2 separate regions of the Homo sapiens genome follow, and region 2 is linked to region 1. The links come from fine-mapping of genetic effects on gene expression. A gene starts in region 1. The other region holds a variant in brackets. All regions are shown on one strand. Distances are from middle to middle. Region 1 holds the start of MRPL18 (mitochondrial ribosomal protein L18). Region 2 overlaps WTAP (WT1 associated protein).

The links.
Region 2: its variant is fine-mapped to the expression of MRPL18 in esophagus muscle (GTEx, PIP 0.90).

What each region holds. Positions count from the first base shown.
Region 1 is chr6:159,788,845-159,791,753 of GRCh38, forward strand. MRPL18 (mitochondrial ribosomal protein L18) reads left to right here and starts at 1,623. Exons shown (of 4, transcript NM_014161.5): 1 at 1,623-1,795; 2 at 2,096-2,282. The coding sequence starts at 1,744. TCP1 (t-complex 1) reads right to left here and starts at 758. Exons shown (of 12, transcript NM_030752.3): 1 at 561-758. The coding sequence starts at 624. RefSeq lists enhancers at 1-620, 621-1,284, 1,541-1,720, 1,751-1,810.
Region 2 is chr6:159,740,197-159,743,105 of GRCh38, forward strand. WTAP (WT1 associated protein) reads left to right here. Exons shown (of 8, transcript NM_001270531.2): 4 at 1,892-1,950. It also overlaps a transcript of SOD2 not described here. Among named protein-coding and RNA genes, the nearest start is that of WTAP, 14 kb to the left of the region's middle. The variant G/A (reference allele first, on the strand shown) is at 1,608.

The DNA.
Region 1 (2,909 bases):
CTCCTGGGGTCAATGCACTCGAGTGGCGTTTCCTGGGCTAACTCTACTGTAAGAAGCTGTCAACCCGGATACGGCTGGACGCCGGACGCCCGACCTCGACTGCAGCTGCGGGCGGACAGGGCACCGGGCTCATCCGAGGGCGCGCGGATGGACCTACTCTTTTTCTGGTAAATGGTCCTAAAATAAAACCTGGCGTTTAACATGGACACTCAGGGGGTCGCCCTGAAACAAAAGGGGGTGCGAGGCGTGGCCCGCACGTGCGAGCCCGGGAGGCCCGCTTTCCCGCGGAGGGCGCGTTTCCAACGCCGCCCCGGACACCACATCCACGCGTTGCCGGTCTCAAAACCCTGCCGCGCGCGGCGGGGCTCCTCCTCGCTGTGGGAAAAGTGGGGCCACAGCGCCCTGCCCCAGAGAACGGCGGGTGGGCTGGGTCCGGCTGCGGGGCCCCGAGGCCCTTTCTGCGGAGGTAAAGGAGAGAAACGAGGGCAGCCGGGGTCCGGTCGCGGTGGGACTCGGCCCTCCCCGGCCGCAAACCCGACCCAGGCCCGGCCCGCCCTTACCGTTTTGGGAGCGGATCGTTTCCCCAGTGCTGCGGTCACCGAACACGGACAAAGGCCCCTCCATCTTGACGGCAGCGATACACGTCGAATTCTGCTTACACCGCGGGCAACCAGTATCGCGGCCCCTCGGCCGACCGGCGACCACAGCAGTGGCTGCGACGGCGTGGAGCGTACCCGAGCGATGTCCCAGGAGCTACTGGGTAACACACCACCCCACCCGCTTCCCGGCTGCCCCGGCCCGGCCGCGGGGCACGGCGGGAAGGAAAAAGAGGCAGGGACAACAGGGAGAGAAACAGGACTGTGACGGAAGTGAGGCTCCGGGGAAGGGGCGGGGTCGGCATTTTTGTCCAATTAGATAGCCGATGGGAAGGGCGCGAAAGCGGAGAACGGAAGTCGGATGTTGGACCGCTGGGAAGAGGTTGAACCTTCGCCTCAAACGATGTTGCGCAGACGCAGTGGGCCATTCTAGTGCCTTCTAGAAAAGGTTGTAAGAAGGGTGGAGCTTGGAGCTGGGGTGTAACTGGAGGGGCGGGCCCTTCTCCAAGTTAGAGTTGGGGTTCTGAGCGAGTCGTGCGTTTTAGGTTTAGTGTCTTTTCCTTGTCCCTGCTCGGGGAGCGTGAGGCAGATCGGCCGGCTTTGCTCCAGGCCTCAGGAGTGTAAGTTTAAGGGCGCGAACCTGGGTGGGACGGGGCAGTTTTTCCAGCGGGCCATACGGGAAAATTTTTGGTTCGAGGAAGACAACCACCCTTTTTAAGGAGAAAACTGCATCTTGCCCTGCCTTATTCCTACGCGGTGCCCAGGTGGGGTGTGTGTGGACCAGTCGATGACCGCCCAAGCTCTCCGAGTAGAAAACCCAAACATGGTTTTGTGGGGTGTGTGCCTTTGACCCCGGACTTAAGCAACAAGCGTGGTCTTGGGCGTAGCTACGAGGTGGTTGGTGGGCTCCAGGGCCTGCGTGCCCCTCGACGTGAGCGATGATTGGCGATGAAGGATAACAGATCGCCTTCTCGGCCACTCAGTGGCAGGGGACTTGCTACTTCCGGGTCGGTGGCGTCTGGCGTGGAGAGTTTGGGGATCTACAGCAGCCAAAGGCTTGTCCCTGACTTTATATGGCTGCTCCTGGCGAGCGACTGAGTCGTCCGTGAGGAAAAAGAGGCGAGGCTTTTCCGAGATCGTCTCAGCGATGGCGCTTCGGTCGCGGTTTTGGGGGTTGTTCTCGGTTTGCAGGAACCCTGGTAATTAGTCTTGCCCCCCTTCTCCCAGCTCACTCGCCTGGGCTTGCACAGTACATTGGAACGTGCGGGTTCTATTTTGTATTCGACGTGCCGGATCGAAATAGAGCTCGCGGCACTGCGAAGACCACAGTAGGAAGTTAAGGACGGGGTCAGTGCTGACTCCACCCTGTGGGCATACGTATTTTTCGTCCCCTCGGGCCTAAAGATTGGGGGTGTAAAAGCGGATAGACGTTAGAGCGGGTTCGTGCGCTGTCCATATCCGTCATTTTTAAGCCCTGTGCGGTTTTTCCCGTTGCCCAGGGTGCAGGTTCGCAGCCCTGTCAACCAGCTCCGAGCCGGCAGCGAAACCTGAAGTGGACCCTGTGGAAAATGAAGCTGTCGCCCCAGAATTCACCAACCGGAACCCCCGGAACCTGGAGCTTTTATCTGTAGCCAGGAAAGAGCGGGGCTGGCGGACGGTGTTTCCCTCCCGTGAGTTCTGGCACAGGTAATTAAATCTGCTTGTGATTGACAAGGGCAGTGCACCCTACAGACTATTTTCATTCATTCAACTCCAGGCACTCTCCCAGGTAGCTGCCATGCGGCGGGTAGAGGCAGGGTTCGCGGAGGGGCTGGAACAAACAACAAATAGGTGTGATGGGGGCTATTTAAAGAGGATGTTACAGTAGCGGACAGGATACCTGCCTGTCTGAGGTGACATTTAAGAAGGTGAGATCTGAAAGAGGAAGAAGCCTAGTCATCTGCCAGAAAGAGCAGTCCTAGCAAAGGAAACTGCTGGGGTGAGGAACTGAAGGGCTTGTGGATCTGAAGCTCAATGGGCAGAGGATGAATGGCCCAAGATGAACATGGAGGGGTAAGGAGGCGACAGATGATTAGCTTTGTAAGTCAAGATGAGCACTTTAGACTTTCTTTTCATTATAGTGGGAAACTACGAGAGGATTTAAAGCTTGAGCCCGAATTGGTTTTTCAAGATCATTCTGGCTGGGCGCATTGTCTCATGCCTGTAATCCCAGCACTTTAGGGAGCCAGCCGAAGAAGCCGGATCATCTGAGGTCAGGAGTTTGAGACCAACCTGGCCAACATGGTGAAACCCCGTCTCTACTAAAAATATAAA
Region 2 (2,909 bases), 49 kb before region 1:
TTACATAATTGCTCTGGTTAGTCTGTGCAGTCATTTTTTTGATTTAACTGTAGGAGGGGAAAAATCAGTAATCTTAATAAAGAATCATAGAAATGTTTTATTTTAAGATACCTTTAAGGTTTCTAAATCATATGCAGTGTATTTCCTTGAGGTCAGTTTAACATCTTTCCTTAGGGAATTCATGTAAGACTTTTAGGCGAGTTTTTTCTCTTTGATTCCCTTGGAGATTTTAAACCAGCTGCTACTTATTTAACTAGTCTGTGCCTTCTATCCTTGTGATATACATGTTCTTGCTTCAGTTTTTATATTTTTCTGTACTTCTAAAATAAATCGTTCTTTTATAGCCTCCACTGAAGATCTTTCTCTATACATCCCCAAATATTTGGTAAACTACGTGTCTTAGGTTGTAAGTGCCGTAAAAATAAAGCATGGCCTTGGCTGAACATCAGTGTTTACATAGAAAGTGGATTAGTTTGGTATTAGGAAGGTTTTTTTTTTTTCTTTTTTCTTTCTTTTTTTTTTTTTTAAGACAGAGTCTCGCTCTGTCACCAGGCTGGAATGCAGTTGCGCGATCTCGGCTCACTGCAACCGCCGCCTCCCGGTCAAGCGGTTCTCCTGCCTCAGCCTCCCAAGTAGCTGGGACTACGGGCATGCGCCACCATGCCCTGCTAATTTTTTTGTATTTTCAGTAGAGACGGGATTTCACTGTGTTGGCCAGGATGGTCTTGATTTCTTGACCTCATGATCTGCCCGCCTCGGCCTCCCAAAGTGCTGGGATTACAGGCACGAGCCTTTTTGTTCATTATGTTGTAATATTAATAACTCATGACAAGCCTGTTTTTAAGATTATAAAATGGTTTTCTAAAGCCAAATTTTAATTAATTGTACCTGAAGAGCAGCTTGAAAACATGGCTCTTAAGTATGCAGGATAGCAGACATTCAGGGCAGGGTGCTTTCCATTAGGAACTGCCTAATAAGACTAGGAAAAATCTTTATTGCTAAGAGGACCTAGCAGTGTATATATTCAGGGTAGAGAAGTATAATGAAGAACAACGGTCCCCTTGTATTCTGATAGCATATGGCATTTATGCAGGTTTCTGACAGTTAGATGTGATTGTTAAATTACAGTCTTGAAAAATGTTATATTCTCCCCCTGTGTTTACAGGCAGAAATTGATACTACCTTGAGAAGAGTCACATGGTATTTTCCCAAAAGAGCCAAGATAAAGAACCTTCAATTCTACATAATGAGGCACATTTCTAATATGCCTTTTGTTCTAAGTGGACAACATATGAAAGCAGCAGTGGGATTTTTTTTTCAGCTTCTATAATCCAGGATTATCCTGAACATCAGTGATATCAAAGTGAATCTGGGGTTTGATCTCACCCAGGGCATGCTTGGCATGTTCTCAGCAGAAAAAACCTTCTCTATATATCTCTTTTTACCTGTTTCCTGTAAAATGGGAAGGAATAATGAGGGACTATTTTATGATCAGTTAAACTAGATTTAGGCTGGGTGTGGTGACTCAGGCCTGTAATTTCAGCAGTTTGGGAGGCCAGGGTGTGAGGATCATTTGAGCTCGGGAGTTCAAGACCAGCCTGGGCAAC[G/A]TAGTGAGACCCCATCTCTACAAAAAAATGAGCCATGTGCCTTTGGTCCCAGCTATACAGGAAGCTGAGGCAGGGACATCGCTTGAGCCCAGACCCTGTTTGCGCCACGCTGCACTCCAGCCTGGGGGACAGAGCGAGACTCTGTCTAAAAAAAACTAGATTTAAAATGAAAAATCCAGAAGAATGCTCAGTATTACTAAAATCTGTGAGTTTATAGATATCTTCTAGTTTATTTAATAAACTATTTTATCGTAACAACTAATGTATGGATTTTTTTTTATTAGATGGAAACAATATGAAGCATATGTACAAGCTTTGGAGGGCAAGTACACAGATCTTAACTGTAAGTTTGAGTTTTAGCTTCCTAAAGACTGAATAATCTCCTTTTGATTGTTAAAATCAAAAGGATAGTTGTTTTTATTAAAGCAAATGTAATTTTTCTCGTGTTTTATTATAAGAACTGTACATAGGCACTGTGTTGGGTGCAAGAAAATATAAAGATGAATGAGACACAGTCTCAGTCATTGGAGAAGACAGAGGTGTAATAGTCATGTAATGGCATGACTTAGCAAAATTATATGCAAGGTTCTGAATATAGATGCAGTAACTCAGAACTACTTGAAACTTTTCTTACTTGTCCCTAACCCCTTCTGCATAGGAATTTGACTTGAAGCATGAGTTACTAGTCTAGAAGAGAAATAAACAGAAGCAACCAGTAACAGATTTATGACAGCTTAAATCAATATATATAACTTAATAATATATACAGATTTTTTTAAATCTGCTGAAAATAACGTTTATCATTTTAAGCCATTTTAGTCTCACTTTTTACTGTTTGAATCACATACTATTTGTTGAGTATAAAAACCAATATATATTGTTTTGTAACTTCAGAAGGGTTAATACCCTGAAATTCTAATTTTGCGTGACTGTGTTACCCATAGAAGTCATGAACATTGTGAAAGTTTAAGGCTAGGCACAGTGGCTCACACCTATAATCCCAGCACTTTGGGAGGCCAAGGTGGGAAGATCACTTGAGCCCAGGAGTTTGAGACCAGCATAGGCAACATAGGGAGACCTTGTCTCTACAAAAAAAAAAAGAGTCAGGAGGATCACTAGAGCCCGGGAGGTCAAGGCTGCTGCAGTGAGCCCTGATTGTGCCACTGGACTCCTGCCTGGGTAACAGAATAAGATCCTGCCTCAAGTTTAAAATACAAATTGTCCAGCAGTTATTACTATTTTATTTATTTATTTGTTTGTTTGAGACAGGGTCTCGCACTGTTGCCCAGGCTGGAGTGCAGT